Linked DNA regions of Homo sapiens: region 1 is linked to region 2. The links come from fine-mapping of genetic effects on gene expression. Tissue or cell type: whole blood. Region 2 holds a variant in brackets; the other region holds the start of a gene. All regions are shown on one strand. Distances are from middle to middle.

What was found. PIP is the estimated chance that this variant, and not a neighbour inherited with it, causes the effect.
Region 1: it holds the start of TMEM144, and the variant in region 2 is fine-mapped to the expression of TMEM144 in whole blood (INTERVAL, PIP above 0.99).

The regions. Positions count from the first base shown.
Region 1 is chr4:158,206,192-158,214,287 of GRCh38, forward strand. It overlaps TMEM144 (transmembrane protein 144), which reads left to right and starts at 4,295. Exons shown (of 13, transcript NM_018342.5): 1 at 4,295-4,395; 2 at 5,262-5,383; 3 at 6,417-6,585. The coding sequence starts at 6,477. RefSeq lists enhancers at 3,683-4,237, 4,138-4,227.
Region 2 is chr4:158,011,441-158,019,551 of GRCh38, forward strand. All of the region lies in intron 1 of LOC105377509 (a long non-coding RNA gene), which reads right to left. Among named protein-coding and RNA genes, the nearest start is that of GASK1B-AS1, 160 kb to the right of the region's middle. RefSeq lists a silencer at 4,277-4,433. The variant TA/T (reference allele first, on the strand shown) is at 4,179.

The sequences.
Region 1 (8,096 bases), 190 kb after region 2:
ATATTATTATTTTGAAGTTATCTATGCGATCAATTAAGAATAAGAAACAAATTATAGGTTGGTGGATTTTTCTTTCAACACTCTAAATATTTCACTCTACTCTCTTTTTCCTTGCATGGTGTCTGAGAAGTCTGATTAATTCTCATCCTTGTTCCTTATAAGTAAGGTGATAGTTTTTCCTCTGACTCCTTTCAATATTTTCTCTTTATTTTCCACAATTTGTATACAATATGCCTACATGTAGTTTTTTTAAAATTTATCTTGCTTGGTGTTATCTGATCTTCCTGGATCTGTGGTTTGATGTCTGTTATTAATTTTAGAAAGTTGTCCACCATTATTAGATACCTAGATAACTATTATTTATGTATCTTCTGCTGCTTTCTTTCTTTTCCTTCTGGTATTGCTATTACCTGTATTTTATGCCTTTTGTAATTTTCATACAGTTCTTGGAAATTGTGTTTCTTTTTCCTATTCTGTTTTCTGTTTCCATTTAAGTTTGGGAAGTTTCAACTGACATACCTTCAAGCTCACTGATTCTTTTGCAGCTATCAAAAGTGATTCTCTTTTCTATTGTAGTATTTTTTGTTCTCTAACATTTCCTTTTGATTCTTTGAGTTTTCATCTTTCTGTTTATTCGTTCTTGCACTTTTCCCAGTTGATCTCTTAGCATATTAGTCATAGCATATTTTAAATTTCCAGTCTCATAATTCCCAAATCCCTGCCATATCTGAATCTGGTTCTGAGGCTTGCTTTGACATTTCAGAGCTGTGTTTTTTCTTGCCTTTTAGCATGCCTTATAATTGTTCATTGAAAGTGAGGCATGATGTATCAGATAATAGAAAACAAGATAAGTAGACCTTTAGTTTTTATGTGTATTGGGCCAGAAGTTAGACTGTGCTTAATGGTTGTTGTAGCTGTAAGTATCAGAGGCTTCTATTTTCTCTAATATCTTTCTTTTTGTCTCCCCTATTTGTTGTCTTTGGGTTTTCCTAGAGACTCATTTTTAAGCAGAGTCTGTGTCTTGCAACTCTCTCTAGTTGTGATCCACAGTTATTATACCAAAACACTATTTATGTGGTCGTAAGATATTGGAGAGTTGATACATTCTATAATGTTATGATAAAATCTCTATTTTTAAATTCTTATTTCTTTTTAAACAATTTTAGATTCAGGAGGCACATGTGCAGGTTTCCTACATGGATAGATTCTGTAATGGTGAGGTTTGGGCTTCTAGTAAACCCATCACCCAAATAGTAAACATTACAGCCAATAGATAATTTTCAATCTGCTCTCCTCTCCCACGTTTCCCTGTTTTGGAGTCCCTAGCATCTATTATTTTACCTTTATGTCCATGTGTACCCATTGTTTAGCTCCCACTTATAAGTGAGAACATGCAGTACTTGATTTTCTGTCTGAGTTATTTCACTTAGGATAATGGCCTCTAGCTCCATTCATGTTGCTGCAAAGGACATGATTTCACTCCTTTTTATGGCTGCGTAATATTCCATAGTTTATATATACCACATCTTCTTTATCCAATCAACTACTGATGGACACTTAGGATGATTCCTAATTGTGAATAGTACCCCAATAAATATATGAGTGCCAGTGTCATTGATTATAACAATTTCTTTTCCTTCAAGTAGATACCCAATAGTGGGATTGCTGGGCCAAATGGTACTTCTATTTTCAGTTATTTGAGAAATCCCCATACTGTTTTCCGTAGGGGTTTTACTAGTTTACATTGTCATTAACAGTATATACGCATTCCCTTTTCTCTGTATCTTTGCCAACATCTAAAACTCTGTTTTCTAGTTGTCCAGAATCCCTGAGCTGTGAACTTCATAAGGGTTTCTTCTTTTGTTTTTCTCCTTATGTGAGAAAGAAAGTGTAGAAGGTGTTCAAACTGTCTAGTTGCCTTTTCTCTAATTCAGATAAAGCTCTGGGGTAAAGTTTACCTTGAGGACAGGCTTTTGTTTCTGAGTATATTTCAAATAGTTATTGTTTTCCTCCCACATGCCAGAAAAAAGAGGAAACTTTTGTCCTGTCTTCTGAAAGTAAAACTCATTAATGTGTGGATGCTCCCATATGAATGACTCCCACTGTCTCTGAGTTTTCAACTCTCAAGTTAGTCCACACTCAGCCTTCAGCAATAGGCCAAATACTGTATAAATGCCCCCCTATCCTTTACTGGCTCCAGTGGCTTTTGCTGTCCTGATAAGCTGTAATTCTCCGTATTCACCTATTTCTTCAGTTTGCAAAGAGGTGGCATGTCCTATGACATCAATTCTCTGCAGATCTAAAAAGAGTAGTTGATTTTTGATTTGCTCATTTTTTTCTTGTTGTGATGATGGAAGTGGAGACTTTCACACCTTTCAAATGTCAGAGCAGAAACCAGAAGTCCTAGTAATAATGTTATATATATATATATATATATATATATATATATATATATATATATATATATATCTCTTTTGACCACATAAAAGGGGGAGGTGCACAGGTCTTATTATTATCATTTTACATATAAGAAAACTAAGGTTTAAAGAGATTAAATGAGTTTCCATGAGAAATATTGCTAACAGACGAAGCTAAAGTCAGAACCTGGATCTTCTAGTGTCTGCCAGGACTCTCCCAATACAGACCATTCTGTTTAGGCATTCATGTATACGAAACAATTTGAAAGAAAAATTTTAGTTTAAGAATAGAGTCATGCATGTTTGGATTTGCTCTGTGGCATAATGTAAAAGGCAATGGCCTAGCATATCCCTAATGAATCTTCTCAGGCCTAATTCAGCCCCCAACTCACTTTTAGACTTTAGAAATTCTCAGCAAATGCTGACACAAGCTTCAGTTTCTCCATGTGAGTGAAGCAAGAATAAACCACATGATCTTGTGACCATGAAGTGAAACAATTCTAGGTTGGATTTAGGCCCTATATTTTTGGAAGCAAGTTTGTGTATGTGTGTGTGTCTTAGGTGTGCATGTGTGGAAAGGGGAACTGATTTCTTCAAAATCTTTCTGAACTGCTAAATTAATCCTCTTCCTTAAGTGAAAAAGCTTTGCTGCTTTAATTCTTTAAATGAAATGTTATTTTGCCTTCCCATCTGCTCATCTGACATGATAGTCTATGGATGTGATTAATGTTTAAGGCAGAACTTCCTTCTAGGAAATGTCATATTTTAACAGTCCTTGTGTTTTCTCCTTCCTGTGAATGCTACACCCATTACCAACCACTGGATGGTCTCGGGTTAAATAGCACTTCCTCAGAGAAGGCTTCTTTGAACTCAGACTAGCACAGAACCTACACTTCCCCTTTCCAACTTAAAGTTTGCATCCTTTGGTGTATGCGAACCCACATGAAGAGATGTTTTTTTTGTTTTGTTTTTTTTTTGAGAGGACTCCCTCACTTTGGGAGGGCGAGGCGGGCGGATCACCTGAGGTCAGGAGATCGAGACCATCCTGGCTAACACGGTGAAACCCCGTCTCTACTAAAAATACAAAAAAATTAGCCAGGTGTGGTGGTGGGTGCCTGTAGTCCCAGCTACTCAGGAGGCTGAGGCAGGAGAATCGCTTGAACCCAGGAGGCGGAGGTTGCAGGGAGCCGAGATTGCACCACTGCACTCCAGCTTGGACGAGAGCGAGACTCCGTCTTAAAAAAAAAAAATACAGATAAATGGCCTGTACAGATAAATGGCTTAGGTGCATCTACAAAGAATTAGTGATTACAAGTGAAATCTTGTAATGTCACAAGAAATGTTAATGACGTCAGTGGTGCAGATGAATTTCTTAATACCAAGTGGAAAAATTCACTTGAGATAATCTTTTACAATGGTGTGAAATTCCTCAGACTTTTGTTTTATCCATAAACTGCACAAATAATACCTCCCTCTGTGACACTTAGAGAGGGTGACATGCTGAGAGTTTCCTGAATAATCACCTCTTGAAATACACAAAACTCTTCTAGTTTCCTGGTTGACCGACCCAGGGCTTGACGACTCCTTTTGAGCCACCTGACAATTCAGTCCAGCACAGCAACTGAAGGAAGGCGTTCCCCAACCTGCTGTCCTATGAAGGCCTCTAGGTCACCGGTGCTAAAGCCCTCCTTTCTCCACCCTCCTTAAGTGGAGGTAAACGTCCCAGCAGGAAGTCAAGGCTGGATTGGCGCTCTTCGCGAGCACCCTGGGAACGGGAGTCTGGGTCACGGGTGCTAGAGCCCTCCCCTCTCCTCCCGGCCGGTGTATGGGAAATTGTCCCCGCAGAAAGTAAAGGCTGGCCAGGCCGCCCCCAGCACGTAGAGGGAATGAGTCAGGCTCCGGCTCCACACTGGCACGTAGTGGGCGGATCGCGCCGGCGCTGAGTAGGAAGGAGCTTCAGCCGCCAGCCCGGAACGCAGTGAGTACAGCCACTCAAAGGAAAGCCAAGTCGCTTTGCAGGGGAGCGTCTCATGATTTTTCAGAAACGTGCTCATGGTTAAAAAGAAAAATCAAGGCTCGGAATAAATACATTCAAGCACTGTTAATTTTAGCCCAAAGACAGGCGGTACTTGCCTGGAGATTTGGGAAAATCAACATGAAACTAAAAATGAAATTTTAGTTGGAGTGGAGCAAGCAGTATTGATCAGAACATACCAAATACGAATTTTTTCAAAGTCTGCGTAGAAGTTTAAATTACTAGGAAAAATGTAAAGGAGAAGTATTTACTAATAAATGAAACAAAAGTAATAAAATAAAAATGAATTAATATAGTTTGACAAAATATCAGCGAACGCTGAAAAGAAAACATTAAAATAATGTTTGAGACTTTTTAGGTTTTGTGCAGGAAGAATTGGGAAAAATGTGCTGGATGGAGTGATACTGCTTTTCTTTTCCACAAAAATTTCATTATTTTAGAGAGCGGTAGAGCCTTTTTAAAGACAGTAAGTTATTGCCAATTCACAATGAAATAAGATCACATGCTCTGAAATGTACAAGAGCTGCATGCAATAAACTTCATTTATCTATAGGTAATAACTGATTGATGTTTATTCAGTAGTCGAAATGCACCTCATGCACTCTAATTAGCACGTCAAATTAGTCTCTCCGTTTCAGAGGTGTAGGGCCTTTGTGGAGCCTTCTCAATAAAATAATTTGCCACTCTTGAAGGTTAGACATTCTCTTCTATCAATGTACACATAAAGGTTTTGTTTTGCTTTGCTTGTTGTGAATTAAAATGGGGAGAAAATGATGTGTTAGCTATCACCCAGTCATGTGTCTTTTTAGTCATAGGTTAGCTTTTCAAGACACTTCCTGCATCTCTGACCTGTTGCACCTCTGTTATCTTGGCACCTCTGTTATCTTAGCAGCAAGCACCTGCCTCAGCTGACCCTTGAGCCATAACCCATGTAAGTCACTGCAGGGCTGAACCTCTCTTTGAGCCTAACAGTAGAATAATAATTATTTTTATTGAATAGTGTTAATGTGTCAATGTTGAAATGTGCCTCAGTGTGTCTTCCTCAACCACATCCCTATAGAGGATGTTTTCTTAATAGCAATGTGTTTTTGTTTTAAGAAAGTCCACACAATTTCAAATACACATTTTCTTTACTAAAGTTTATTGACCAGTTTTGAAGTGATCCTTGTTTTCAGTTAAACTATCTTTAATAATGGTAAATAACATATTTTGTAGGTTGTTGTATATTTAATATTCTCTGCAAGAACACATAAGGAACAATACATGGACCTTTAAATATTTGTCATTGTGAAATAAAATAACAAGGAAAGGTGATTTCAGGTGTACTTTATTCAATACATATATACAAGAAGTTATTACTATAACATTAAATTTGCAGGAAAAAAGAAACCACTGGATTATTCTGCTTCTATTCCAGAGGGCTTATTCCAAAGGGCCAGTGTGCAAAATATGAATCCAAGATGGCATTGTGGAAAGACGCTGTACCTCCTGTGATAAAATTACTTTGGTGGTGCTTTTTTCTCATGTATCTCGGGAAACTAAAAATCTGAATTGTATTCAGTGGCCTTTTCCAAATGGTAACTTTATGAAAAAATGTCTAATTCTTGGTTATTTGTGGTTTTAGTCCTTTCTTCATAGAGAAGCTAAAGCTGTTAAATAAGCTTAGCAGCGTTATCCGCTAAAACTTTCTGCAGTGATGGAACCTACACAGGAGAATTTTTTTTGTAATGTACTAAAAATTTGTCTTCAGGGCTTGTTCTTTTTAAATTGTAGGCTAGTGATCAAAAATATTTGGTGATAGAATAAATTAACATGAAGTACAAACATTATATATAGTTGTGTAATATCCTATCTGCAAAAAGGAGTCTTAGCGTGCTTTTGAAAAATTCAATAAATATAATATGTTAATCACAATTTGGTCACAGATTCACGTCTCAATTGTTTCATTTTTTCTTTTATTTCAGAAGCTCCTGAAAAGTACATCAAGTCTAAAGTGAACCAGCTAACTCATTAAGACTGGAATCATGAGCAACAATGGAGCAGACCTAACCTTTGGTTACATCTCCTGTTTTGTAGCTATCCTTTTGTTTGGCTCAAATTTTGTGCCACTTAAAAAATTTGATACTGGTGATGGTAATTATTTTTCCTTGATTGTTAACGTTATATTATTTTTAAAAATGAAGTTCCTTTTTTGGTCTTTTAAAAGTATAGCTACAAAAATAAATCATGTTGATCTTGATACCTAGTGAATAGAGCTTAAAATTAGTCATTTGACAGTGCTCATACCAGTTTGTCTGAAAGTCAGAATAGGAGAACCATTAAGGTTGTTTCATGGTAAAGTTAGGGAGGGTACAGTCAGGAAATCTCTTGGGCCATTATATGAATGGAAGAAATTTATAGTCAGTTCTACTATAACACCTGTTTTGAAAACATGAATCTTCAACATGATTGATATATTAGAGAACAATGTAAGCATAACAGATTTTTGGCTTGCTTATGTGCAATTTTGTCCCTGAGAAACCTCTAGATAGGCACAGAAGACTGCACCTAGATGAATAAAGATGTGTGATAATACACATAATGCACGCAGACACACGTACAATCTTCAAATATCGACCAGCTCCCTTAGTTCATCACATGTGGTTATGATGTATTCCACCCAACCACATCTCCTGTCCCAACTCCTCACCCAATACCTTCACAGTAACTCGTAAGCTGCAACCCTTTGGATGCTCACTTCCAGGAGCAAACTTCTGGTGTTTTTCAATTAAAATGCCCTATTTATTACAGCATCATGTAATTAACCAGTTAACCAGTTAAAACTGTACTACTATTTTAATTAGGTTGAGTGTTGTTCTCCTAGCCCCATTTTCCCATTATGCTCTGTAGTTTTTACTGCATGATTTTGCATAGTGCAGTGATTTCAAGGAATGCACATGTTACATTATAGCAGAACTGACTAATGTGAATTTTGGGGAAGGAGAAGCAAGAGTTATTTGTATTTGCCTGACTTCCATATTAAAGCCAGGAGAAGGAATTGAGATTTATGGTGAACACATGTTGGGAATTACTTCCTTGGTAGTATTTATCACCTGACAGCAGTTGTGTTATTTCCCCAATTCTTTGTCTTCGTGCACTTAGAAAATAGGATTACCTCCTATTTTCCTCCAGGGCCTTTCTTCTCTTTTCCTCTGGAGTTAGGACAAGAATGGGAACTACCCGAAGAACAAAAAAATGGGTAGAGGATCTAGCTTTTTTAGTCTTCCACAATTAGCTTTGTGATCCTGGGCAAATATTACCAGCTCTGCTGTTTTCAGTTTCTCATTTGTAAAGTGAACAACTTATAAAATGAAGTTTCTTTTCATCTCTGTGATTCTACTCTTTTTATTTTTTATTTTTCATTTTTTTGGGGAGATAGAGTCTCACTCTTTCACCGAGGATGGAGTGAAGTATCATAATCTTGGCTCACAGCAACCTCCACCTTTAGGGTTCAAGTGATTCTCATGTCTCAGCCTGCCAAGTAGCTGGAACTACAGGCACACACTACCACACCCGGCTAATTTCTTATATTTATGGTAGAGACGGAATCTCAAGGGCTGGTCTCGAACTCCTGAGCTCAGGCAGTCCACCTACTTTGGCCTCCC
Region 2 (8,111 bases):
AGTTGCCTCCTGCACTTATCAGTGGGACTGAAACACAACATAAAGACTACTGTCAATATTAAAGTTTTTGGCAAAGAGTGTGCACCTGAATCATCTTCTTTGTGCAGGGAGGTAGGATTAGGCACTGGGTTTGTCACAGAGCAAGCTGTTGTAAAGAAGTGAAGTGGATCCTGGAGATGGTTCTGTTGCAGTGGCAGTACAGTATCTCACCAGGTAGTGGCTGGAGTTGGCTCCAAGTCTCTGGCAGGGGAACACCTTGACACACGTCTGGGGTCGCTGGCACTCCCTTCCTCTCTGACTCCAGCCTTAAGGTGAAGAATTCCATGTAGCTTCTTGTCCTTTCCCCTCAGCTGTCTTTGCTTCACAAGGTTTTAGCCCAAATAAAGAGTACAAATCCCAAAGCCACATAGAAATGAACTTTCTGCTAACTGGAAGCTTTAAGTGAGTAAAGGTACTTTATAATGAAAAATGCATACATTTAGTTTAGGAAAACTGAGATGTTAACATGTACCTGGTGAAATAAGAAGAAATATCATCCTGATAATTCTCAAATTTTCTTCCCCTACAAGCACTGATCTCTAGCAAAGTGGGAAGAATATGTAAACTTCACTGTCATCATATAACATATTTCTGTTTATTAGGTGATTTTGTAGATAGTTTCAGTTTCATATTTAATATTATTTTATTTTCTGTTTATTTTTTAAATTAATTCTTGGCTCAATTTGGATCATGTGCTTTTAGAAAATTATTTTAATTATGATAGGAGACTTAAGTTGGTTATTTAGAGAGGACTCTGTTTGTTTACAGTTTTATGATCCTTCTCAAATGCTTTAAGAAACTGAAAGCCTGTAAAGCTTTCATGCATACTGTGAACTGCACACTTCAGTTCACAGAAGAGATTTAATTAGAATATGTTGATGATGAGCAGTCCATCTTTTTCATGTAGTATAATTTATTAGACATAAAGGTGGCATTATTTATACTGTTCAACCATACTTACATATATGCAAATATGAATTTAATTTGATTGTCTTGTTTAACCCTTGAAAAGCACTGAAGCCATCAATAGACAACCTTTAAGATGCTTCAGGGGAAGAGATACTTTTCCCAATAAATGTTATTGCCCTTCTGTCATTAGTAATTAGTATTTTAGCTTCATAGCTTGTTCTTTTGTCTAATATATTTCTGTAAATCTTTCATTCTCTAGCCAATCAATCAGAAGAAATTTTTAAGAGTTGATGGATGGTATGTGTGTGTGTGTGTTTTCACATAAATCAAAGTTGTACAGCAAGTTTGATTGTCATGCTGAGCTTGTCAAAATTAATCTAAGATTTATCATAAAGAAAAAAATGATTTTTTTCTGTTATATAGTTTGTGAGTTAACATAGAATGGTGGAGTAAGTAGCCTTTAGAATATACTTCCAATTCAATTAGTCCTAAGGTTTATATTACATTAAAGTAAAAATTCTCTGGACACAAACAAATATTAAGAATATATATAGTATTCTGAAAAATATGTTAATAAACTTCATTTTAATTTTATTAAATAGCACATTTTCTGTTACTTAATATTATTTAGAGAAGCAGGAGAATGAGAGCAATGAACACATGTCAGATGAGCAAGTAGAGAGGAAATTAAAGGACTAAAGGCATTGTTTCTGAAAATAAAAAAACCAGGCTATGGTCATACTGCCCTGAATGCGCCCAAACTCATCTGAAAACAAACAAACAAAAAAAAACAAACAAACTTTAAAACCAAATTTTAATATACGATAATAAAATTTAAAAAACAGAGAGAAAAAATCCATAATGTTCTCAATGGATGGTGAACAAAATGAAAACATGGTTTGATTTAGTTTGGTTTTTGTAAGAAAATGGAGTAAATTTTTCATCCAAACTCCAAATTCAATTTTGTTTAAATGTCTCTGATCTGTCCTTTAAAATGGGTGATTTCACTCAGTCTCTTAAAACACAAACACGCACAGAGCAGGAGCAACACCCCTACTCTGCAGTTGGGTAGTTGTTCTCCAGATTCTAAAAACAACAGCAAAAACAAGTTATATGAGGCCTGTTCATGTATATTACCTGATTTGGTCCTGCTGAATATAGAAGAGGCTATCTTTGCTTTGAACAAATGACACATTTTGTGATTCATTTTTAGAGCCTAGGAGAGGAAATAGACAGCAGTTGCTTTGAAACAGAGAAAGAAGACAGCCCACTCCTAAGAAATAAACCAAAGATCTCTAGAAAGTGCCACTGGGGTTGGGTTGACAAGGAAGTTAATGATAAGTGACAATAAAAACAACAATTAAAAACCTGAATTTATCCTAAGCATTTATTTCTTTTAAAAGACACTCTAACATCTTTTATTGTTTTAATTGAAGAGCTATATAATTTTCCTATTTAAATCTATTTTATTTCTCTTGCCTATTCACAAGCTCAAACAGAAGTCTTCTCCTTTTGCTATGTGTTTTTTTCTCCTTTACAAATTGGACTTCTTTATTACCAGCACAAAGCTTTAAAAATCCACATAGACCAGAGTGACCACTTGACTCATTTTTCAGAGATAACAACACTAAGCTCTTTTTATTTTTCTTTAGTTGCACTGGTGATTATCATAGATCACATTGCTTGATAGATACATAAGGCATGAAAATTGTTGGCCACAATGTACTAGGGAATGGTAAGGAAGATACTCTGAGTCATAACTAAACCATGGGGTTTAATATTTTGTTTCATTAATTTAACAAATATATAGTGCATGCTATTCTACTAAGTATATACAGTTCCAGGAACTGAGAATACAGTAATAGTTATTGTTTATACAGTAATGAGGAAAAACTTAAAACATATAATTAATAAATGCTATATGGGACCAGGTGCAATGGCTCATGCCTGTAATCACAGCACTTTGGGAGGCCAAAGCAGGCACATCACTCGAGGTCAGGAGTTCGAGACGAGCCTGGCCAACACGGTGAAACTCCATCACTACTAAAAAAAAAACGAAAATTAGCCAGGTGTGGTGGCATATGCCTGTAATCCCAAGTTACTTGGGAGGCTGAGGCAGAAGAATTGCTTGAACCCAGGATGAGGAGGTTGCAGTGAGCCAAGATTATGCCACTGCACTCCAGCCTGGGTGACAGAGCAAGACTGTCTCAAAAATAAAAAAATAAAAAAATAAAACTCTGCATGGTCTGTCTCATAATACCACTAGAAATAGTCCTAAATTGTGAATTAACTATTTTAATAGATTTGCTTTTAAAGCTGAAACATATGAAACTTATAAAAGACAATAAAATCACATATGTACTGTTTTTATTTATTTACATATCTAGTTCTCCTATCACTAGACTAAGTTTTAATCCCCAGTAACTACCTTTGCAAAGCATAAAATAATCAAATACATATTCATTTAATCATTGGATTTAATTATAATCCCAAAATATTAACTTAGAAAACATAAAACTGTCAAACCTCAAGTATCCTCAATGTTAAAGCTTTTATTTTACTTTGAATTTCTTAAAACAGGTTCAACTTTCCCAATGCCACTTGGTTAGCAATTGGCAGAAATAAATAGAAATTTGGCTCTGCTCAGAACACATCCTTTTCATTGAAACTTTTTTTTCTATCAAGGCTTTTAGTTGAATTTTTTTCAAAGTGCCACAAATATAAAAGAGAATTAGCACTATATTTTAAATATAAAGCAATACAAATAAATAAAATTGGGTTGACTATTGATTAAACAACATTTCCAGTACCTTCTAAAACTTATTTTCTTGTGACATAACTTTTCTTCTGAAAGATTAATGCTAGCTAGAGATAGCTAGTTGTTTGCCAAACACTAGGTCGAGTTGGGTATTTCTGTGTACCGAAGGGTAGAGTTGCTCTGGAAACTGGCTTCTCTCACAGCCTTGCATGAAATTAGGGTCAGATGATTGGGTTCTGGCCAAGAGAATGTGAATGAAAGTGACATGAACTAGGACTTTTCAAACTTTCGTTTTCATAAAGACCACCTGAGAAACTAGTTAAACCATCTATTCCTGAACTCTACCAACAGTTTCTAATTCAGTAGGGCTGGAAAAAGGCTGGTTTGTGGGTAATGCTGATGCTATCTGCCCATGACTCACACACTGATATACATGACTACTACTTTGCCCATATCCAGTAAAAAAAAGAGA[TA/T]TTTTTAATAATATCATTATTTCTATGTTATGAACGAACAAAAAAGTAACCATCTATTTACAAGTAGATAACAACTGGTTATATTCTCTACCATCAATTTTTGTTGTGGACAATTACAAATTCCATTTATTTGTTTGTTTGTATGTTTTGGACAATTACAAATTCCATTTATTTGTTTGTCTGTTTGTTTGTGTTTGAGACAGAGTCTCACTCTTGTCACCCAGGCTGGAGTGTAGTGGCACCATCTCAGCTCACTGCAACCTCCACCTCCCAGTTACAAGTTATTCTCCTGCCTCAGCTTCCCAAGTAGTTGGGATTACAGGCACATGACACCATGCCCGGCCAATTTTTGTATTTTTATTACAGACGGGGTTTCACCATGTTGACCAGGCTGGTCTCGAATTCCTGACTTCAAGTGATCTGCCTGCCTCAGCCTCCCAAAGTGCTGGGATTACAGGCATGAGCCACTGCACCCGGCCACAAATTCGGTTTTTAATACACATATTGCAAAGGTAGAAAATCCTATTCCAACCAGGGGATAGTTATATGAAAAAAAAGTTGGCAGAAGAGTAAGAACTATGAATTTAAGACATCATTTGTTGTCTCTGTATTATTCCCAAGAAATCATAGCCAAAAGAAAGAAAAAATGATGCAAAGTGAAAAAAACACTAGCACATATTTTATCCTTAGAAGATCTCTACTGACCACCATGATGGTGGTAATTACTTTATGATGTAAACTACAACAATTAAGCTATTCCTAGCACACTTATTATGAGCTTCAGAAAATCACAAGGATGCAAACACAACTAAACTACATTAATGTGGACTCTCTTTTCAGCATAAAAACAAGATGTTCTACGGGTATGCCAGGAAAAGGTTTTTGGCTTAGGCAACTCCTTCCAGAAACAGTTACTCTATCCTTCAGTCCACTTTTTAGTTTACTTATAACCTTCTCACAGCTCAATAGCTTCCCTCTTCACCTTCATCTTTTCACCTCTGGCACAATGTGGAAACAGCTCATCCAATGCCTAACTCAGTCTCCATGGTTTCAACCCATTATTTCAACATCCTTATAAAAACATTCTTAGTACTCCTGGAGTAAAATTTTATTTCACAATATGTCTGCTATTTATGATCCCCCTATATCTGCTTAAGCCTGTAATCTTTCAAAGCAAGCACCTTCAGATAGCTTCCCGTTATTAACTTGAGATCAAGGATTAGTCTCCACTGTATAGTAATTATTCAAGGTGGACAATGAAGGTTTTTGTTTTTCTTGCCCTACCACAGAGCTGAGAACTCTACCCAAAAATTATGTCATCATTTTTTCCTGCATTTGTAGTAGGCATTAGCATCATTTGGTGAATGGGATGCTTGATGTAAAAAGTAGTTACAACTTGCCTAATAACACAGTCAACATTTTTAGGAAAGTTAACATTAGAATGGAAGACTCACAAACCCAATATATGTATATATTGTATATGTACATATATTGCGTATATGTATATATTGTATATGTACATATATTGTGTATATGTACTAACATATACACAATATATGTATATATTGTATATGTACATATATTGTGTATATGTACTAACATATACACAATATATGTATATATTGTATATGTACATATATTGTGTATATGTACTAACATATGTATATGTATACATATATATTCTAAGCTATTTAACCTTTAGTAATAATTATATTGTAAAAATTAAAATGGCCCCAGAACACCCAGATCTGTGTTTGCAATAAATGAAAAATTGACAAATTATTTATATTTCATTATCTCTCTCGATTATATATTCCATGTGGCAGGCACCACACATATCATTCATCAATCACAATAATACAGTGCAGCATGGTACGACGAATCTAAAAGGTGCTTGGTAAATATTAGTTAAATCAATGTTGAAAATATTAAGTAAAAATCATAAAGTATGCCTGAAGAAACCTCATTTATTCCTGGCTTTTTTTTTCTTTCACTTTTATTTTACTTCGTGTCGTGGTTAAGAGCACAGCTTCCAGAATCAGACTGCCTGGGTTATAAGTCATGGCTCCTCTATTGAGCAAGTTACTTAACTGCTTCGTTACTCAGTTTCCCCAGCTGTAAAAAAAGTATAACAATGCCACATAACTCAAATAAATTTATGAGAATTATATGAGAAAGTTCACATTGACCTCTTGGGTTAGTATTGTAATCAGTTAGTAATTGTTCACTATTATGAGACTTTTCACTTGATATTGGTAAACAGCTCTGTTTTTTAAATTTATGATAAATATACCAATCATACAGAGATATAAAGGATGGAAATTAGATCAGAGAATATCACAAAAATATGTTCATCATAAAATAAATAAAAATAATGGGTCTTTATATTTGAAATCATGTCTAGAACATTATCTAATACCCATCATTTCATTCTAATTAGGGCCTTATAGGTAAATAGAGTTTCTTGATATTCTATTGTTTTATTTCAAGACAGGAAAATAAAGATATGCCGCATTTTAAAGGTGCACAGTTGCTAATGAAGATACCTGAAATTCAGCTGTCAGCCCTCTGAACCATATATTAGATCAATTCGACAGTTTATTCAGTTAGTACCACTGGCAGAATTTCTCCATAATTCTTACCATATGTACTTTTTTCTGCATTTCACTTCCCTTTTTGCTCTTTTGCTCTCTCTCTTCAACTTTATCTACTTTTTGTTGCAATTGTTTTGGTGATTTTATTGTTATCATTGGTGGTGGTGCTGGTGATAGTGGTGGTTTTTGGAACAATTGCTTTTCCTTCCCTAGCTATCTCTTTATTTTTCTCTTTCCATGACCTAAGAAGCAAAAGTGCCCAGTAATACACAGGAGCCTTGCTTTGTTAGCAGAATTTGTCATTTGAACTATGTGACCTCTATAATCATTTGTTCTACAGATGCCTTCTTTAAAGACTCATTTCGGAACAAGAAAAGGCTTTCAGACATTCTCCAATGACTAGCAGCATTTGCCATCCATCTTTAAATGGGTAATTCCCCTGTCAAAGACCTAGTCTCCTAGATAATTATATGCAGAGAACTATTATTTATTTTCCCTGCCAATGCACTGGAATCATACCAAATAAATCATGTGCTGTGGTATTAAATGTTGGTGAAATAAATGAACATGAGGTTTTAGAGTGACATGTCTTGGGAGTCAAAAGTACCTATGAGCTAAGGCATTTATCTCACTTGTTCAGGAGCTGACATTGGGTTCAGTAATTGGAAATTCGCATCATAATATTACAAAGGACAAATATTCACCCATTTCCATTGAGATGGCTTCCTCTTTAAAAGAATTATTTAGAGAGATTTGCACTGCTCTCTTGATATTGATAGTTTATTCAGCTGTTGAACAATAACTTAGGTTTTTCCAGACCATCATTCTGCACATGTTAAAGAACTCCCAAACCACCAGGCTGGCTTAGATAAATATCAGACTCTGGATAACTTTGGTATCAAGGAATAATGTGAAAGATAATCCTCTTTTCCTAAAAAGATGGGATGGGGAGCTACTTTTGAAAATAAGGTTTAGAAATAACTATTTTACTGTGAGATATGTTTATATTATACTAATGTATGCAATAAGTAGCATACAATTTTATTTTAATCACTATATTATAATTCTATGAATCTTACATATAGAAAAAGAATAGTAATAAAATATTCTCATCTTGAAAATGAGATAGTGTATGGTGGTTTTTCACTTTTCTATATTTCCTACTATGAGTGTTAATTATTTTTATATTTAAAAAATGAAATTAAGGTTACTAAAAATATTTTAAATGTTAGGGCATAATACATAAAGTAACACTTTCTCCCTTGTATCTCTTTATTATCATTCAAGTTTTCTTGCTATTCTGTCTTAACCTGTACTGTTCCTTCAAGTAATAAACAT